Regions from separate parts of the Homo sapiens genome. Here all the other regions are linked to region 5. The links come from fine-mapping of genetic effects on gene expression. A gene starts in region 5. Each other region holds a variant in brackets. All regions are shown on one strand. Distances are between the middles of the regions. Region 1 overlaps TRPM6 (transient receptor potential cation channel subfamily M member 6). Region 2 overlaps TRPM6 (transient receptor potential cation channel subfamily M member 6). Region 3 overlaps TRPM6 (transient receptor potential cation channel subfamily M member 6). Region 4 overlaps TRPM6 (transient receptor potential cation channel subfamily M member 6). Region 5 holds the start of TRPM6 (transient receptor potential cation channel subfamily M member 6).

Region 1 (4,121 bases), 80 kb before region 5:
TTAAATTGAAACCCTCACAGCTGAATCAGAAAGCATTGTGAATGTTGATTGGATATTTCATTATATTAAGGAATTATTCATTGATTATATTAAGGAATTATTCATTTTTTATGTATGATAATGGCATCATAATTACATTTTCCTAAGTACATTTCATTTAGAGATATTCACAAGAATTTATGAATGAAATGATATGATGTAAGATTTGATCTTAAATAATCTGGGGGCAGGAGGTTGGCCATTGTTGCTATTATTGAAACTGAGTGATAGGTACATGTGGATTCATTATACTATTCTCTATTTTTGTATGTTTAAAATTTTCCATTAAAAAATACAACTGAGAAAAAAAAACCATAGGCTTTTTAAAAATTTATTGTATTTATTTATTTATTTATTTATTTATTTAGAGACTGGATCTCACCGTGTTGCCCAGGCTGGTCTCGAATTCCTGGGCTCAAGCAATCCTCCTGCCTTGGCCTCCCAAAGTCTTGGGATTACAGGCGTGAGCCACCATGCCCAGCCCAAACTACAGGCTTTGAACTGCTTTATTTAAGTTTCTGTTTTGTTGATAAAAATTGAACATAGAAATGATGAGGTGAAGACTTTTTAAAGGCAACACCCAAATTATTATTACTATTGTAATATGAATTAATAGTGTCATTATAGTAATTATCATAATGACCATTATTACTAACGATGACTCTGCACCCTCTGTGTATCAGGAACATGGATTTTTCATATATTATTTAATCCTTCTGACAAATTTATAAAAGGGTCATTACTATTCCCATTTATAGATGAGAAAACATGCACAGAGAAGTTAAGCTTATTGTTCAAGATTACACAGCTACTAAAGAGCAAAATTGGAGGCAGTCCTAGCCAGATGTCTCTTGACTCCAAAATCATGTGCTTGTAACTACTACAGTCTAGTTTAATATGACACACAATAAACTCTGCACTCCACTGGAAGACAATCCAAGAAATGGGTGACTTCGTACTGGCAGGCCATTTAAAGAAAGGGCACTAAGGGAACTTCCCTAGCAAGCTCCACACTGGGCTGCACCAGCGCCACAGTCAGTCCTCCTACTTGTCACTGGGAACCTCACAGCAATGTCTGTTCTGTTTAAATGAAGTAGCTGATACCTCCTTAAGTGTATCCTTATGCCTTTGAAATCTTAATAGAGAACATTTTTCTGTGTCAGATTTGGCTTTCCTGTTTTGCTTTTTCATTTCTGAAAGCCAAGCTGGGCTTTCACGTCACTTGATTCTTTATAAAGGATCCCAAGTAGCTTGATATTCTAGGCTGTTTATGGAATCTTACCCCAAACTGCCTTTCCAGTCTCCTCCCTTAAAACCATATGACACTGATTCTCCAGCAACAAAGGTCTCCTTGTCACAGCAGAAACATACCTGAATATCCAAAGGCTGTGCCCTTTACTGCTCCTTCTCTTCTCTCAACAAAAATACCCAAAACTACATTTTCTAATCCTCCCCTCATCTTCTAATAAGAATGAGTCTCCTCAGGTTGCTAATCCATAATGGCAATTTCAAGAAATAGGCAATGTTTCCTCTGCTAACTACTAACCAACAACTCTAATTTTACATTCCTAGATTCTCAAAACTATCATGGAAAATAAAATATGTATCACTTATGTTTTTAAGGATATTCTACACGCATCTTTCAATATAATCACTACATGCTTATACCAAGTTTGTTATCTCCAGACTATGGACTAGGATGAGTTTACATATCTAATCTGATTAAGCTTTTGATATCAGTATTTT[C/T]GGAAGAAAAAAAGAAAAGAAAAAAAAAGAACTAGTCATCTCTCCCTCTAACCTGCCTCATCACATTATTTCTATGTCACTATAGCATGTATTATATACTGTTTTGTATTATGGCTAGTTACTCATAAATCTGTTTAAGAGTTTCTAAACTTCTGATCCTTACGCATCCCAAGCCAACACTGCAACACTTAGTACAGTATACTTCACATACAGCAGATAACAAATGTCCATAAATAAAATGACCATTTTAGGAGCTATTTTTGTCTGAACTTCCAAGGCCATTTTTCCAAAACAACAATTCCTAATCATTCTCAATTTTACTTGGGCACTTTTCAATTACTCTACCTTGTATTTTCTGTAGAGGTTGTTGTAGAGGGCTCTGAAATGTTTTCTAGTGTAGTTGCTGCGATATGCTCTACCAATGAGGTATTCTACTACTAATCCAATGTCAATCAAGGTTATTCGGTAGCCTGAAAGAAGGGTATGCTGCAACAAAAACATGCAACGACTTTTAACTTTTAGTTATCTTCTTTCATTTCTCTTGCCATGCCATTAGAACATAATCAAATTAATTGCAAGAAGGTAGACATACCTTTTAAATATCTTTACAAACTGATTAATTTAAGTGACCAGCCATTGATACAATCTGCTAGTTCAGAAGGAAAAATATCTTAGCCTTAATGTTTTCTCATTTCATAGACATTAAATGTGTGCTTCCATCTATGCGTGCTCTCTCTCTCTTACTCTTGCTCTCACTCTCCTTATCATGCACACAAACATATATACACACACGTTTGAGTAAAATACATTTAAATATTTTTTATTCCATATTGAGTTCCTAATTGGAAGAGAAAAATATTAAACAAGTAGAAAAACAAATAAATATGTATATAGAGAGTTTTTTAACTAGAAATAATATAGCTACTCCAACAGAAGTAAAATCTTAAAGTCTACACTGAATGTGTGTGATCCAAAATTAACATTGGGTTAGCTTTTCAGCTTCTCTCTTTGTTGAAATGGATATAACACTTTGCACTGCGTTGACTACATCATATGTAAAACAAGAATATGGGAGGAAGTAGAACAAATGAAAACAAGGAATATAGAATGACAAAGTCAAATTCAATACCAAAACATGAGGCTTATGCAGCCACGTTCTTCCTTGAATTGAACTTAATCCAGTATAGACAGTATAGTGTTTTCTATATTTCAGGGCATATTTGGGGGTCTTTGTGTCTATAATCCACTTTGCCTATGGTCCAAAATCCCACAGGATATATTACAAGGGTATTGAAGTTGTCAGCTTGCATGTCTGTCTTCCTTTACAGACTATGTGAAAGGGTCTGTCTTTGTCTACCCAGAGTTTAGCATATGCACTTGGCCAAGCTGAGTAACTATCTGAAACTCCATACAGGCATACCTTAGAGATATTGCGGGTTCAGTTCGAGACCACCACAATAAAGAGAATATTGCAATAAAGCAAAACAAACAAACAAAACCATGAGGCTGTGCCAAGACAAGTGTTATGATTGGTTGGCAGGAGGGCTGAGTGGTAGATTTCCAAGTATGTGGGTCTTAGTCTAAATGAAAATTATTTTGACTACTTAAATTGCACCTTACTACCTCTTCATAACTGTTCACTTTTAAACTGCCCATTTATAGTAAATTTTTAAAGGCACACAGAGTGTTGAACAAGGTCTCCGAAATGAAGATTGTGACTAATATTCACAAAGCTTGGAACAAGAAATAAGGTTATATATGAATGAATGTAAATAATTTAATTTTTCTTTTTCACATGCATAATTTACTTTTTTCAAGGAATGCCAAAAGTAATGCTCTTATTGCTGCTAGTTAGAACATATTTAACCTAGTTCATCACTTTTTTTCAGTTTACTGTGGCACAGTTTAAAAAAAATAAATAAAATCATTTTTATATTGCATAAATCAATACAAACTAAATTTACATGAGCACGGACACTTTTGCTTACTGCTAATTTGCCAAGGAATAGGTGGAGCACGATGGACCATGCCTGTAATCCCAGCACTTTGGGAGACCAAGGCGGGTGGATCACCTGCGGTCAGGAGTTCGAGACCAGCCTGGCCAACATGGTGAAACCCCACGTCTACCAAAAATACAGAAAAGTTGCCGGGTGTGGTGGCAGGCATCTGTAGTCCCAGCTATTCAGGAGGCTGAGGCAGGAGAATCACTTGAACCAAGAGGCGGAGGTTGCAGTGAGCCAAGATCCCATCATTGCACTCCAGCCTGGGCAAGAGCAAAACTCCATCTCAAAAAAAAAAAAAAAAAAAAAAAAAACAAGGATATGTCTTCCTTTCAC
Region 2 (4,121 bases), 22 kb before region 5:
CACCTTAAAAAAAATCTATCATCTAACAACTACTTCTTCAGTGGAACTGATAACTGACTCCGATTTTGATTTCCTGCATTCTCTCTTACACACATCACAGCACTAACAATGTTTACTTGCATTCACTGGACCATCTCTCTCTCTCTCTTAACCTTATTGTAATCCACTTCAAAAGAGAGCATTATTTTATTTATCTTGGAATTCACAACACTAGAATGGGTCAAATAGACAATATTTTCAGACTCCAGATCAACATTTGTTATTTTTTCTTCAGAGTGCCTCCCTTGAAGCAAGAATCCCTTCAAAGTGCCAGGTAGATGGACATCAGGATGTACCATCAATCAATCTGTTGGCTCAGGGAATCCATCAGTGCAAAGCCAGCCCATCCACTTTCAAGTGTCAGCTCAGGGCCTTCTATCTGTCCAAATTCTGCAAGGATACCTACCTGACACTTGATCCGAGAGGGGCAGTCTCAGAAAAACAGCATCCAGGCTAAAAATATCTAAAAACCAAGTTCCTGTTCCACCAACACTACCAGAAAGTGTGTTGACTGATTTTCCACTAAATAGTCTGTCCAGGAGGCAGAGAACACAAAGTAACCTTACACCTTCATCTCACTTTGGTGGTAAAAGGTGAGCACTATTTAGCTGGTAGTAATTTATTTTTGGTAACATCTCTAAAAATTGAATGTCAACTAAATAATTCACAATTCCCTAAAACGCCATTTCTCCTGAGTAGTTGAGAAATTTTACTAACATTTTCACATAGTGCTTTGCTAAGCAAAGGCATTTAGAACCTTGGAATGAGGCCTGGTGCAGTGGCTCATGCCTGAATCCCTGTACTTTGGGAGGCTGAGGTGGGTGGATCACCTGAGGTCAGGAGTTCGAGACCAGCCTGGCCAACATGATGAAACCCTGTCTCTACTAAAAATACAAAAAATTAGCCACGCGCAGTCGTGGGCGCCTGTAATCCCAGCTACTCAGGAGGCTGAGGCAAGAGAATCGCTTGAACCCAGGAGGTGGAAGTTGCAGTGGGCTGAGATCGTGCCACTGCACTCCAGCCTGGGCAATGAGAGAGAAATTCCCTCTCAAAAAAAAAAAAAAAATGGAACGTCAGAATGAATTTCTAGATTATATAAACTCAAGAGTTAAGGAGTAAAACATTTATAAATCTTCCTGGAGCCAAATAGGGGATTAGAGGAACTCAACAGTAACCTTCCAAGTAAAGTGCATCAGAAAGGTGAAAAGTGAAGTGATATCATACCCCTTCCTTCCTCTTTCCAAATTGGTTGAAGCCCTCATTATTTCAGCCCCAAAACCCAATTTCAAAATAGCAGCGAAAGACATCCTTTTCCTCAGTTGTCACTCACGCTTCAGGGTTTAACCAGTCTCCTGGGGAATAAAACATGCAAATGAAACATTTATAATTTCAGATCTTGTTAAATCATTCTGATAAAAAGGGAAGAGGAAATGGAAGTCTCCTTTATGAGTGTACTTTACAACTGTCCCTCGATAGTAAAATACAGAGATTTAACCAAATGCTGGGCCTATTTGTAGTACAACCACTCTAATCTGGTTAGATTTTCCACCTACATGCACTCAATTCTCTCCAATTTCCAAGCTCCAAAATGCTCACAAATTTGTTATCTATGTACACAGATGGTCTTCATTTATGCTCCAAATATCTTGTTAAATTATCCAAAACTTTACTAGTACTACATGCAAATAAACTACATGACCTAAAATAAAGTCTTTTTTGGAGTGGCTCATGAAACTATGCTTTTATTTTTGTTTTAATACAGAGTCTTGCTATGTTGCCCAGGCTGAAGTGCAGTGGCTATTCACAGGCGTGATCACAGCACACTGTGGCCTTGAACTCCTAGGATCAAGTGATATTCCTGCCTCAGCCCCCTGAGAATCTGGGACTACAGATATGTACCACCATGACTGGGGAAAATATACTGTTAAATAATTGACTTTTAGGAAACTTACCAAC[C/T]TCTCAGACAATAAAGCCTTTATTAGAAGTTACATGTTTGGCCAGGCATGGTGGCTCACGCCTAGAATCCCAGCACTTTGGGAGGCCATGGCTAGAGAATCATTGAGCCCAGGAGATCAAGGCCAGCCTGGGCAACATATCGAGACCCCGTGTCTACGTCCAATAATATAAAAAATAGAAACATTTTTAAAAAGAAGTTACAGGTTAAATTTTATTTATGACATTCATAGTAAGGTTTATATAGACAATGGAGATTATTTGTCTTATTTTTTTCAGTATAGCACAGCACAAAGAAGACACAACTGGATTTTGCTCCTTAAAATTTGGGGGACACTCATACCACGTGTGTAACTTAGACAAATTCAAAAGCTTTGCTAAAAGAATGAGAGAAGGCTAGAAGGTGAAAAATAAGACAGAGAGAAAAACAGTTTTAATAGTGTGGGCAGTTTCACTGTCATTCCACTATCAGTAGGTTTGATTTTTTTGGGGGGGTTTTTTGTTTTTTGTTTTTTTGTTTTTGAGACAGAGTTTCACTCTTGTTGCCCAGGCTAGAGTGCAATGGCGTGATCTCGGCTCACTGCAACCTCAACCTCCCAGATTCAAGCGATTCTCCTGCCTCAGCCTCTTGAGTAGCTGGGATTACAGGCATGCCCCACCACACCCGGCTAATTTTGTATTTTCAGTAGAGACAGGGTTTTACCATGTTGGCCAGGCTGGTCTTGAACTCCTGACCTCAGGTGATACACCCACCTCAGTCTCCCAAAGTGCAGGGATTACAGGCGTGAGCCACCGCATCCAGCCTCAGGAGTATCTTATTTCCAAAAGCAGCAGTTCTGAAACTTCTTGAGCTTAGGATCCTTTCATAATCATAAAAACTACCAAGTACTCCAAAAAGTATTTTGTTTATTTAAATTATGTCTACCAATATTTACCACATATGAAATTAAAACTGAGACATTTAAAAATATTTACTTATTAGTTCATTTTAACCTGTTACATGCTAACACAAAAATTTTCCAAAAAAGTTCATAAACAGAGCACTGTCTTATGTTTTTGCAAATCTCTTTCATGTCTGGCTAAAGATGGCTAAATTCTCATGTTTGCTTCTGCACTCAATCCTTTGCAATAAGTGGTTTTGCTTGAAGTATACAAAGAAAATCTGCCTCACAGAGACATGTAGTTGAAAAGGGAGAGTATTTTAATGGCCTTTTTAGATCATTGTGTATTCATCATGTACCCTTGGGAAAACTCCACTGTACACTCATGAGAAAATATGTCAAAAGGGCAAATAGCATCTTAGTACCATTATGAAAATAATTTTGACTCTGAGGACCCTCTGAAAAGGTCTTAGAGACCTCTAGGAGTCCTTGGACCACATACAGAGAACTACTGCACACAAGTGACTGTGTGTAGACACTAGAGTGGAGTCTGTGAGAGCAAGAATATACCATTCCCCAGATGGTCTCAGTTCCCACATGCATATCTTAGTCTGCATACCTCATCTTAATGAGTAGATTCTAGATCCCCTGTTTAATCTGGTACTCAACTGAAGAAAGTTCCAACACAAGATAAAATCTTCATGTACTGTATTTTATGCTCAATGAAAGGGACTTTTCAAGGGTAGTTTGGAATGCATTCAATTTCTAAACTTACAGCCAACTTTAATGCCTACCACACCCACCCTCCAGAAGATGTCGTTAAATTCAGTGACCTTGGGAAGCTTGCGAAGTGTGGAACCAGCCCTTTACAATCCATAGGCAGGATACATCCTATCAGTTTATCCACCTCTTTTAAAACATTGAAACCTCGAAAGGAAGAAACAAATGAAAAGAAAAATTGATACCTCTAAGAATAATAGGTTTATTCATTCATTTAAAAAAAAATACTTTGATGGCCAGACGCAGTGGCTCACGCCTGTAATCCCAGCACTTTGGGAGGCCGATGCACAGGGTCACGTGAGGTCAGGAGTTCCAGACCAGCCTGGCCAACATGGCGAAACCCCAACTCTATTAAAAACAAAAAAAATTAGCTGGGCATGGTGGCACAGGCCTGTAATCCCAGCTACTCAGGAGGCTGAGGCAGGAGAATCACTTGAATCCGGGAGACAGAGGTTGCAGTAGGCTGAG
Region 3 (4,121 bases), 30 kb before region 5:
AAAATACCTCAATTTAAATCTCATTGATTTAACAATTACTCTAAGCCCCAGTTTTTATATCTGAAAATAATATCTGCTTCATAAGGTTATTAAAATAATTATCAGAGATAATAATATGTAATGTGTCTTATGGTACCTGGTAAAGACAGTGTGTACAATAATGGTAGCTACTATTATTATTAAACTATGAAGATAACACAGATTTCTTGAGAATCAAGAAAATAGATATATGTAAACCACTTTAAAACCATAAAGCACTATCAAATAAGGGACATTTGGTATAATTACAAATTATCCTTTATTAATCTTTCTTTTTTATTATTCAGAAGAACCTTATAGATTTAGGGGTTAGCACTGTTGTCATCAGTTATATTTTTGGGCCAGGCACAGTGGCTTATGCCTGTAATCCCAGCACTTTGTGAGGCTGAGGTGAGAGGATTGCTTGAGTTCAGGAGTCCAAGACTAGCCTGGGCAACATAATGAGACCTTGACTCTTATAAAAATTCAAAAAATTAGCCCTGTGTGCTGATATGTGCCTGTGGTCCCAGCTACTTGGGAGGCTAAGATGGGAGGGTTGTTTGAGTCCAGGAGGTCGAGGCTTCAGTAAGCCAAGATCATGCCACTGTACTGCAACGTGGGGGACACAGCAAGATCCTGTCTCAAAATATGTGTGTGTGTGTGTGTGTGTCTGTGTGTGTGTGTGTGTGTGTGAAGAAGTATTAACAGGGAAGTCTAGTTAAAATAATGGAAGAAAAGGTAATGTTCCTAAAATAAGGGCCGCTCTAAGTTATTCAGAAACTAATATTCAGGACTTTTATTTCTTCCTGTCCCAGCCTTTTGGGAATGCCTTTTCTCAGAAGCTTTCCTTCAACAGTAAATTGAAAATGAGAAGGAAAAAGATGTTATAATCAAGTGTATCAGATTTGTTTCTTATTGGGAGCTACAAAAATAATAAAACAAACTTTTATCGATATTTTAAAAAGTGAATTATCACCCACTTCCTGTGCACCAATAATGAAGAAAACTGCAAAAAAGCCTCAATTCTGAGAATTTTACTAGGATCTAAAAAAAAGGCTGGCTAGAAGAAATAGCCATAATCATACCTTAACTTTTATCTACAATCCCACAATATAGAGACAGTTTTTTCACTTGCTAAAAGTACATCATGCCTTGGAACATTCATGGAATTACAATCGTTGATACTCTTCTTGAGTCTATGGGCTAGTAAAAGACTCAGTAATTTCATCACTTTTTTTTTGAGATTCAAGATTATTGTAAAAATGATTTTTTTATTCACAGACACAAAATGAGCCACCTGAATCAACTTGCATTCCATTGCAGTCACCACCACATGATGTCATAAAAAATGAAGGGGAAAAACAAGGTTATCTTGGCATACTATAAACCTTTCTTAAGCAGGTAAAAAGAGAATTTCCAATCACAAGACTTACAAATCATAGGTAATTCAATAAGGGTGGGACTAGTAAATATTTAACAAAGGCAAAGAACACTATTTCAGTCATCTCCAAAGAACTAGAATTTCAAAAACCTTACCTTGCTACCCTTCATAACACATAGTTATGAGTTCTAAACCTTAAAGGCATATAAGGACAAATGCCCAAAAAAATCTAAAAATAGGTTGGTTCCTTTACTTAAAATATTACTCTTCTATTTTCCTTTTAATTAATTTTTCCAAGGGCAATGTCAATCTTAATTTCACAGACCTGATTACCCAGAGGAATTTTCCATAGCCCTTTCTTCCCCTATCTTTCACTAGTTGCTTTTTTGACCTTTGTTTTACAAGTAGAGCTTCCAAAGCATTGTCAAGAACTCAGTAGTCAAACTCAAATTATTCCATTCTGCTACCGATTATCTGCTCAATCCAAAAGCCTATGGGCGCTCACTTCGG[T/C]AGCACACATATTAAAATTGGAATGATACAGAGAAGATTAGCATGGCCCCTGCTCAAGGATGACATGCAAATTCATAAAGCATTCCATAAAAATAAAGTCTATGGAAGGAAAACGGAACTGAAATTACCTGTTCATCTAATCTGGGCACAGTGTACTTAAATATACCAGTCACTATTTTCCACAGATACTTTAGTTGGGGATAAGAAACATTCACAATATTTTGAATATTCAGTATTCAGAAAATGTAATTTATTGATTCCAACCCACTGAAATGGATGTAACACTAGATATTTCTGTAACGTCTATCCTCCCATCAAGAGGAACAGAAGAATCAAGTAGAATGAAATCCACGACAATATTAACAGTGACGGCATTAAGAATAACTTCTTTGTACTTCATTAAATTCCTTAAACAGATATTTATCGCTCGGTGGCTCACGCCTGTAATCCCAGCACTTTGGGAGGCCGAGGTGGGTGGATCACGAGGTCAGGAGATTGAGACCATCCTGGCTAACACGGTGAAACCCTGTCTCTACTAAAAATACTAAAATTAGCCGGACGTGGTGGCAGGTGCCTGTAATCCCAGCTACTCGGGAGGTTGAGGCAGGAGAATCACTTGAACCCAGGAGGTGGAGGTTGCAGTGAGCTGAGATTGCGCCACTGCACTCCAGCCTGGAGGACAAGAGCGAGACTTCGTCTCAAAAAAACAAAAACACAGATATTTATCAAGAGCCTACTATGTGGCAGGCACTGTCACAGACACTGGAGTAAGAGTAAGGTAAAAATGGACAAGGTCCCTGTTCTTCCCAGATTTTCTACAATAATCATGTATTATTTTTATAAAGTGAAAGAAATAAACATTGAAAATTCTAACTTTATAGATATGATCAAAACTTCTAAACAAGTCATATTTCTAAGTTTCTATAAATAGTCCATCAGGTAGTGTTGCTTTTAAAAGAAGAAGGTAATTGAAAATTTTACCTGTGAGGATTTTTTGAGCTGGGTATGATTGTGCTACATTCTCTCTTGTCAAATACTCCTTTAATCCAGGATTTCTGGGACTAAAAAGAAAGTGTCATTATTTTATACTCTAATTATGTGACAAAACAATGTAACCATAGTAGTTCCTGCAGGTAAGAAATACTCAAGTATCATGAATGCTAATTAAAATGCCAAGACCAACCCCACACAGGCTAAGCATTTACCAGTTTCTATTACAGATAACATAGGCACAAATAAGCCAAATGTGAACATTAAACGACACGCAAAGTGAATATGCCCATAATCTCACTTTGAGTAACAAAAGCCCTACATGAACAAACCCCTAGCAAGGAAGTAAAGATGTAACTGATATATCCTCTTAAATCTGCCAAAAGTCACTTTTATATCTTGTACCATAATCCTATGGAATAAATACCAAGCTCCCGAAACTTCAAAATTTTTACCCATCAAGTCCCACTTTGGCTAAGATTTCACAGGAAGCTGGAAAGAGTGTCAGAGAAGAGATGTGACTCAGCAAGATTCGATACACATTCTGCAAGCATAGTTTTACCATTGGGTGTGTTGTTTCAGGTTGCACAGCCTAGAACTGTCCCTAAATCCAAGTGAGATGTTGATACTCACTCTTCCTCCTAATAAACTCTCTCCCATTCTACAGAATCCATATCATAGCCAAGCTCCTCCATAAGCTATATTACAAGTCCAGTGGCAGAGGACACTGGATGGACTATACATCCCAGCTACTTGTGAGTAGTTCTAATATAAAAATATTTTGGCTGTAAATGGTATAAGAATACGTGTCCTAGCTGGGCGTGGTGGCTCATGCCTGTAATCCCAACACTTTGGGAGGCCAAGGCGGGTGGACCACTTGAAGTCAGGAGTTCGAGACCAGCCTGGCCATCATGGTGAAACCCCGTCTCTACTAAAAATACAAAAAATTAGCTGGGCATGGTGGCAGGCAACTATAATCCCAGCTACTCAGGAGGCTGAGGCATGAGAATCGCTTGAACCTGGCAGGCAGAGATTGCAGTGAGCCGAGATTGCACCACTGCACTCTGGCCTGGGTGGCAGAGCGAGACTCTGTCTCAAAAAAAAAAAAAAAAGAATATGTGTCCATATTACTTTATACACACATAGATATTAGAACAGAGATGAAAGGAAGGCTTTCTAAAAGGGAGCTTTTTCAAACTCCACGTCAGTGCAGTCCCCACCT
Region 4 (4,118 bases), 70 kb before region 5:
TGTTTCTTGGCAATGTCCACCCTGTCCCAAGCCATTGCCAGATTTAATTGCTCTGACGCTGATAAATTTGTGCCTAGGGTAAAAGAAAGGAACAATCATATATTCTTTTCAAGATATCTACGCAAGAAGCACAAAGTACTGTGGAACATGAGAAGCGTAAATGAGGAACAATTGCAACCCCATCCAGATACTCACCCTTCAGCAAAGCTGTTAGGATTGCTAAGTCCAGGTCTTGCTGCTCTTCAGAGTCAGCATCAAATATGGTAATCTACAACAGTGAAAAACAGAGAGCCATACATTTGGGGAACTACCAAATAAATGCTTTCAAAGAGTACCCACAGAATTCAGACTGGAGCTAATGAATTGAGGAAAACATTCTTCTTTAAAACCTTTTTTTACTTACAGGAGAGAAAACTTTTAAATAGGGTAACAAAGAATTATGGGCACTTGGGGGGGAAAAAACTAAAAATTCCACATATCCAGAGGAAACATTTATGAAAGAATGTTATTACATGAATTTACTATGTACATGCTACAACAAAAAGAACCTCAATGTTAATTTCTGATGTAAATAAAATCATGTCTCCTTTCAAAGAGACAACGAATGAAATCCTTCATTCACCTAGCCTTGGAAACTAAGACTTTTGCTTTTTTTTCTCTTTTCTTAATTTTTTGTAGAGACAAGGTCTCACTATATTGCCCAAGCTGGTCTTGAATTTCCTGGGCTCAGGCGATCCTCCGGTCTCAGCCTCCCAAAGTGCTGGGATTACAGGCGAGTCACCACGCCCAGCCAGACTTGCTTTTTTACGAGAAATGAATCCTCAAGGGTTTGTCATAAAATAACTGAGGTAATTACAGTGGACCCAATGAGCAAGTACCCTGGGCAACACAGACGGTCTTTGACTCTTTTAAAGACAAGTAAGTTCGTTACTTATGGTTCCAAAGGGTCACCTATGGGCCCTTGAGGCACTTGCTCACCCGTTCCCACCCTGTGGGGTGTGCTTTCATTTTCAATAAATCTCTGCTTTTGTTGCTTCAAAAAAAGGGGGGGGGAGTCACCTGTTATTAATGGCTATATCTCAGTCTTTTTAAATTAAAATACATTTCATATAGTAGAAGGAGCTATTTTAATGAAAAAGCCAAGATTGGCAAGACCTAGTCCCAAGTATGCCACTAACAAGCTAGTCCTAGGTAAATATCTTGAGGCTGCTGCTGAATCTCAGGCTCCTCATCCATAAAATGAGAGGAACCTGTTGAATAATCTCTAAGGTATCATAAAGATAAAAAACTATGCTTCTATAACTTCACACATTGTTTCCTTTCACCTGACACGCCCTCTATGTGCACGAATAAAATCAGTCCTCAATTGTACAACCCAATTCCTATCACCTGCAAGCCCTTTGCTGCCTTCTCTTGACCCTCTTGGTCATTACATTGCTTATTAATTATTCTGCTTGATGGCAAGAAGAGGCAAACATAAGGGCAATCCCTTTACCTGTCCTTTTCTTAACTTACTGATTACTGTGGCAAATAGAAAGTGCAATAGACTAAGAAGATTTCAACTCTTCTGAAACTCACGTTTCAGATCTATCATTTCTTTTTTTTTTTTTTTTTTTTTTTTTTGAGACAGGGTTTTGCTCTTGTTGCCCAGGCTGGAGTGCAATGGTGCGATTTCGGCTCACCGCAACCTCTGCCTCCCGGGTTCAAGCGATTCTCCTGCCTAAGCCTCCCAAGTAGCTGGGATTATAGGCACCCGCCACTATGCCTGGCTAATTTTTGCATTTTTGGTAGAGACAGGGTTTCACCATGTTGGCCAGGCTGGTCTCAAACTCCTGATGTCAGGTGATCCACCCACTTCGGCCTCCCAAAGTGCTGGGATTATAGGCGTGAGCCAACGTGTCCGAGCATATCTGTCATTTCTTAACTGCATGACTGCAAATCCCTTAAATTCTCTAGCCTTCTGCTTCATCATTTCCAAACTGGAAATAACCACTGCCATACTGAACTCACTCACAGGGCTATTTCAAATGAAAAGAATACATTTAGAAGCATGCTGCTAATTAGAAACATGGTTGCTATTATTGTTGTTATTGGGCCAACTAAAACCCCAAAGAGTTTTCCACATAGATTTCGTCATGCTTCCTCTAGCCAGAACACTTCAGTTGGTTTTTTTTTTTGAGGCCAGGTACTCAAATATTACCAAAATTCTTATACAATTTGCTCCAGCCTTCAGATTCTAGAAAGATCACCTTGAATCATGACATATCTGTATATTTACTGTAATTGTCAGCTTCATATCATCTGAGTCATTGATATGAATTGATAATTCAGCCGGGCACAGTGGCTTATGCCTGCAATCCCAGAACTTTGGGAGGCCGAGACAGGCAGATCGCTTGAGGCCAGGAGTTCGAGACCAGCTTGGCCAACATGGTGAAACCCCATCTCTACCAAAAAATACAAAAAT[T/C]AGCCAGGCATGGTGGCATGCACCTGTAGTCCAAGCTACTCAGGAGGCTGAAGCATGAGAATCACTTGAGCCTAGGAGGTGGAGGTTGCAGCGAGCCAAGATCTCGCCACTGCACTCCAGCCTAGGTGACAGAGTGAGGCCCTGTCTCAAAAAAAAAAAAAAGAATTGATAATTCATATCATCCAAGTCATTTTGTTCATAGGCTGGCCATGGTGGCTCATGCCTATAATCCCAGCACTTTAGGAGACCAAGGCAAGAGGATCACTTGAGCCCAGAAATTCAAGGCTGCAGTGAGCTATGACTGCACCACTGCATTCCAGCCTGGGCAAAAGAGCAAGACCTTGTCTTTACCAAATAAATTAATTAAATAAATTAATCTTTTTATCACAGTACCCTAAAACACTAAAAACTTTTCCTGAGTCTACATTATGGTAATAGCCCATAGTTTGTGGGCTCCATTTTTTATCCCAGAGTTTATTCTCACTTTTCCCATTGTCCAGTACATTCCCAATGATTTCCTGCAGGATTTACTCAGGACGCTGTGAGGCAGTCATGTAACTCAGCACCATGAAGCTGTGTTCATTGAAGACATGGAGCTGTTCCTTTACCCTCTGAAAATACTTCTGTGTAATTTTCACTAAATCTGATAACTTTTCTGGAACATTGTTATACTAAGTGCTTTTTCTGTAGTAGAGTCTAGTATTTGAAGCATGGAGAGTGCGGACAGCAGTGACAGCAAGAAGTCAAGTTTACTCAACGAAGAATCAAATTCTGTAGAGCTAGATACACTCAAAATCAAAATGAAAAATCCACATTTTTTATTTTTTATTATTTTAATTTTAAATAATTTTACTTTATTTTAAGTTCTGGGATACATGTGCAGGATGTGCAGGTTTGTTACACAGGTAAATGTGTGCCATGGTGGTTTGCTGCACCTATCAACCCATCACTTAGGTATTAAGATCTCCATGCATTAGCTATTTATCCTGATTTTCTCCCTCCCCCCTCCACCCTGACAGGCCCCTGTATGTTGTTCCCCTTCCTGTGTCCACCATGTTTTTTTTTAATTGTGAAAATAAATATTACAGTGTTTATAAATTAGCAGTTCTTAAGTCAGTTGAATCATCAACTCGTCATACTCACACAATCCCTGTGAACCATACACTCCATTAGAATTTGGAAAAGGTGCTTGGACTGTTTAAGACTAAAGTTGAAAGTGTTCTGAATCATGCAGATGATCTCCTCTTTCACCTGAGGTCGCAGCATCCTGGAAGAGAAATAAATGGTCTTGACACAACCCAGAGAGGGGAATGAGCCGGCAACATCAGTACAAGAAAACACCCCATCAGCTCCCCAGACTGAAAAGGTGTCTATGGACAGTTCTGCCAGAAGAGCAAATGAGGGGGAGCAAACGGAAGCAGGAGCTCAAGAAGAAAGCTGAATTTGAAAGTGGGAATGGAGCCGGGCATGATGGCTCACACCTGTAATCCCAGCACTTTGGGAGTCCCAGGTGGAGGATCACTTGAGGCCAGGAGTTCGAGGCCAGCCTGGGCAAAATAGCAAGACCCTGCCTCTATTTTTACATTTATAAAAGAAGAAAGAAAGTGAGAATGGGTTGATCTGCCACATCCTGAAAAGAATATACTCTGAAGTG
Region 5 (4,121 bases):
TCCTACCCTAGATGGTTACCACTCCTGGTGGGAAACATAAGAAACAACCAGATTCTTAAAGTCAAGCCCAGATTCCAGTCTGGCCAAAATAGCTAACGCTTTATCAGTCCTGTAAGAACCCAAAGCAGATGACAGTGAAACATCAAAATCTGTATACAGGGGGAAAGAAATTGAATAACTCGTTTCCCACTTTAACAATTAAAGGTGATCATTTCTCCCTAGAACAAATAATCACAAATGATGTGTATGACTAGAACATCTATGTTCTCAGTGTCTTTTTTTCTCTTTTTTTTTTTTCTTTTTTATGTTCTCCGTGTCTTAAAGCACTGACCTGAGTTCAAATCTCAAATCTGCTTTTCTCCTTTGGTTTCATTTTCCTCACCTGTAAACCGGTGGAGATGGGAGAGACAGGATACTTGGACTTTATAGGATTACTGCCAGGATGAAATAGTTAAGAATCCCAAACTCTTACAACCTGCTAAATACGTCAGGCATTATTCTAAGTGCAAATGGCATGTAGCATTTCAATTCATCTTGAAACTACAAATCGTATTATCCCATTTTCCAGATGAGAAAGCCGAAGAACAGATGTTAACTCGCCCAAAATCACAGGTAGTGATGCAGCTGGGATGCTAATTCAGGCTACCTGGCTCCAGAGCATATGTTCTTATCAGAGCAGGCTGAAATGAGCTAACGTTTGCTAAGCTGCCTGGACTATTCCTGAAATACAATGTGCTCAATTATACTTATTTTTCATACACAGTGTGAGAAAGTCCAGACAAAATAGGCGAGACCAAGAAATTACCAGGATCTCCACTACTCTCCCAAGCGTCTCCAGTGCTCTCCCAACAGCCAGGAGCACCCTCCCTCTCCAAGCCCCCAGAACTTCCTGTTGCGCCATATGCCAGCGGTGGAGAGGAGCCAGCGGGGACTCCTGAGGTTGCAAGTCCGGGCGGCGCCGCGTTGGGGAAGGAAGCGGACTGCGGCGGGGCGGGTGTTTACCGTAACCGGCGCTGTCATCGCTCCGGGACTCCTGCACGGGGAACACTGGGCGCACGGGGACGCGCAGGGGCGCGGAGGGACGGCCGTCTGGGCACTTCTCCAGCCGCCTCGGAAAGCCGCGACCCCCGGCTAGTCAGCGTCCGGGTCTGAGATCTGTGCCCGTGGCAGCTCAAAACGCGCCTTCTCTCCTCCGGATTCTCAGCTCAAGCCACCTCCGAACTCCTCTCCCTCCGGCCCGGAGCGGAATCAGAGCTGCCTCCTCTCCCGGGGTGTTTCCCACCGCCCCGAGCTGAACCCCCGACCCCCGCTAGGTTTCCGCTCTGACACCACCTCCGCTATGGCCGCATCCCAGCTCTTGAAACGGGGGCTGCGGGACCTGCCCTGTAGTAGCGTACACTACCTTAGATAGGATAATCATCTTTGGGTGGAGACCAGAGAACTTGAAAGCCGGTATTTCATAAATCCTAGCTATTCTAGATCCTCGTTAGATGTAGTGTCCCTGGCCCCACCCACTTCTATCTAAGGCCGGGGGCGCAGATCTAGCGAATCGCCTAAGGTCCTTGTTCCCCGCCAGTCGAGCAGCCTGAGCTTACCTGCAAGCGCTCCAAGACAGGTTGTTCTTTCATCTTTGATTTGCAGGCCCTGCTCCCAAAGCCCTGTCTGAGCTTTTAACTGTGGAGGCAGAAACTCTGGGCTCCACCTCCACACGCTGCCTTTTACAGCCCAGTGGATCTGTCACAATACCTTTCGGCTTCAGTTACCTAACTGCCTAGAAAAGAAGGTGACTCTCAGTTTCCTTCGATAAAAGAAGAATAACGAGGATCAAATGGGATGGCCACTGTCATCACAGACATCCTTTGTAGTAATGTATTGTTACTGTTGAGTCAGTGTGGGGCGTGAGGAGATCAGAGATTTAAGCTAACGCACTGCTTTTACTACCTGTGACTTATTGGGCATGTCAAGCCTCAGTTTATTTATCTATGCAATGGGAATAATAGGGACAAAAATCCAGTTCCCTCACAAGGTTACAATGAACAAAGGAAATCACTTAATGTGCTTCATGTGTAACATACAATACAAATGTTTTGTTATTTCTGGTTTTTTTTTCATTTTTTTTGTTTGTTTTGTTTTGTTTTGGTGGATTCCTCTGGATAGGCATCTTCTCTTTCTTTCTTTCTTTCTTTCTTTCTTTCTTTCTTTCTTTCTTTCTTTCTTTCTCTCTTTCTTTCTTTCTTCTTTTTTTAGAGATGGAGTCTTGCTCTGTTGCCCAGGCTGGAGTGCAGTGGCAGGATCATGGCTCACTGCATCCTTGACCTCCCAGGCTCAAGTGATCCTTCCACTTCAGGCTCCAGAGAGTAGTTGGGACTACAGGCACACACCACAGTGCCTGGCTAATTTTATTTATTTATTTATTTATTTATTTATTTATTTATTTATTTATTTTAGAAATGGGGTCTCACTATGTTGCCCAGGCTGGTCTCAAACTCTGGACTCAAGCGATCTTCATGCCTCAGCCTTCCAGAGTGCTAGGATTACAGGCGTGAGCCACCATGCCCGGCCTAGGCAGTCTTGATTAAGGTTGTGGTCAGTGATTTGGGGTGGATCCCAGGGTGTTGGCAGAGGTGGCACAAAGCACACAGGCAAAATGATGCTCACATTATTACAAGTGTAATTAACAATGCTAGTCATTCATCCCTGACAACCGACTTAAAATTAGGGACACCTACTCATTTAGTTTATTATGAATTTTTGCCTGGTGAATTCACATTTGCAGACAGTTTACAGGTTTTTTCCCCTCATTTCTCAATGTGGTTTTAATAAGCATTTCTTTGTTTATTGGAAAATTGTAATCTCTCATATGTGTATTGGCATTTTGTTGTTTTTCTTTTTGTTGTTGTTGCTGTTGTTGTTGAGCCAGGGTCTCGCTCTGTCACCGGGCTGGAGTGCAGTGGCACTATGTCGGCTCACTGCAACCTCCACCTCCTGGGCTCAAGCAATCCTCCAGCCTCAGCCCCCGCAAGTAGCTAGGACTACATGTGCAAGCCACTACACCTGGCTAATTTTTGTAATTTTTGTAGATACGGAGTTTCACCATGTTGCCCAGGCTGGTCTCGAACTTCTGAACTCAAGCAATCCACCCACTTCAGCCTCCCTAAGTGCTAGGCATTTGTTGTTCTTCTATAAACACATTTAATCTCCTTTCCTCTCCTTAACCCATCTTCTTTAAAGCGTTAATCTGTAAACAGTTAACAGGTTCTGAAAGCTCTTCTAAGGCAAGTAAATCCTTCTCGATCTCTGTCTTCCATACAATTTCTTTGTTAGGTCTCTTACAGTGACTGGGTCAGAGAGTTCTCAGAAATCTTCAGACCCACCAAGAAGAGTAGCCATTTGGAACTCAAGATTTGTAAGAAGTCTACCATCTTCTAGTTTACCATCTTTGGTAAACCTACATGTTAGGATGATCATATATTCTTTTCAGATCAAGCTTCAAGGCATTTAGAGCCTGAAATACAAGGGCAATGTGAAGTGCTTAAAGCATTGAATGTACTAGTTTACAAGCTGCCTTTGGTTCCCAAGCTGTATCAGAAACATCTGAGGCATTTGTCAAAAGTGCAGATTCCCAGGCTCCAACCACCCTACCCAGATCTCTTGTATCAGGATTTATAGGGTGGGGCCCAGGAATCTGTATCTTTCACAAGCACTTTAATCAGTTGTCAAACTTGTATATAAAACTTCTTGTCCAGGCATGGTGGCTCATGCCTGTAATCCCAGCATTTAGGGAGGCCGAGGCAGGAGAATCACTTGAACTCATGATTTCGAGACCAGCCTGGTCAACATGGCAAAACCCCATCTGTACAAAAAAAAAAAACAAAAATTAGCCACGCGTGGTGGCTTACACTTGTGGTGCCAGCTACTTGGATGGCTGAGGTGAGAGGATTGCTTGAGCCCAGGAGGTCGGGGCTGCAGTGAGCTATGATGGCACCACTGCACTCCAGACTGGGCAACAGAGTAAGACCATATCTCAAAAAATAAATAAATAAAAAGAAAACTATTCTGGGCACAAACATACCTATGCCCAGGGTAGCTGTGAAAATTAAATTTTAAAATATTCATTAGTA

The links. PIP is the estimated chance that this variant, and not a neighbour inherited with it, causes the effect.
Region 1: its variant is fine-mapped to the expression of TRPM6 in whole blood (INTERVAL, PIP 0.98).
Region 2: its variant is fine-mapped to the expression of TRPM6 in whole blood (TOPMed, PIP above 0.99).
Region 3: its variant is fine-mapped to the expression of TRPM6 in whole blood (INTERVAL, PIP 0.99).
Region 4: its variant is fine-mapped to the expression of TRPM6 in whole blood (TOPMed, PIP above 0.99).

What each region holds. Positions count from the first base shown.
Region 1 is chr9:74,805,904-74,810,024 of GRCh38, forward strand. It overlaps TRPM6 (transient receptor potential cation channel subfamily M member 6), which reads right to left. Exons shown (of 39, transcript NM_017662.5): 14 at 2,131-2,271. Among named protein-coding and RNA genes, the nearest start is that of TRPM6, 80 kb to the right of the region's middle. The variant C/T (reference allele first, on the strand shown) is at 1,786.
Region 2 is chr9:74,863,985-74,868,105 of GRCh38, forward strand. All of the region lies in intron 1 of TRPM6 (transient receptor potential cation channel subfamily M member 6), which reads right to left. Among named protein-coding and RNA genes, the nearest start is that of TRPM6, 22 kb to the right of the region's middle. The variant C/T (reference allele first, on the strand shown) is at 1,996.
Region 3 is chr9:74,855,779-74,859,899 of GRCh38, forward strand. It overlaps TRPM6 (transient receptor potential cation channel subfamily M member 6), which reads right to left. Exons shown (of 39, transcript NM_017662.5): 2 at 2,891-2,970. It also overlaps the pseudogene RNU6-445P. Among named protein-coding and RNA genes, the nearest start is that of TRPM6, 30 kb to the right of the region's middle. The variant T/C (reference allele first, on the strand shown) is at 1,910.
Region 4 is chr9:74,816,697-74,820,814 of GRCh38, forward strand. TRPM6 (transient receptor potential cation channel subfamily M member 6) reads right to left here. Exons shown (of 39, transcript NM_017662.5): 9 at 3,608-3,731; 10 at 196-268; 11 at 1-73. Among named protein-coding and RNA genes, the nearest start is that of TRPM6, 69 kb to the right of the region's middle. The variant T/C (reference allele first, on the strand shown) is at 2,465.
Region 5 is chr9:74,886,229-74,890,349 of GRCh38, forward strand. TRPM6 (transient receptor potential cation channel subfamily M member 6) reads right to left here and starts at 1,693. Exons shown (of 39, transcript NM_017662.5): 1 at 1,596-1,693. The coding sequence starts at 1,628. RefSeq lists an enhancer at 785-1,079.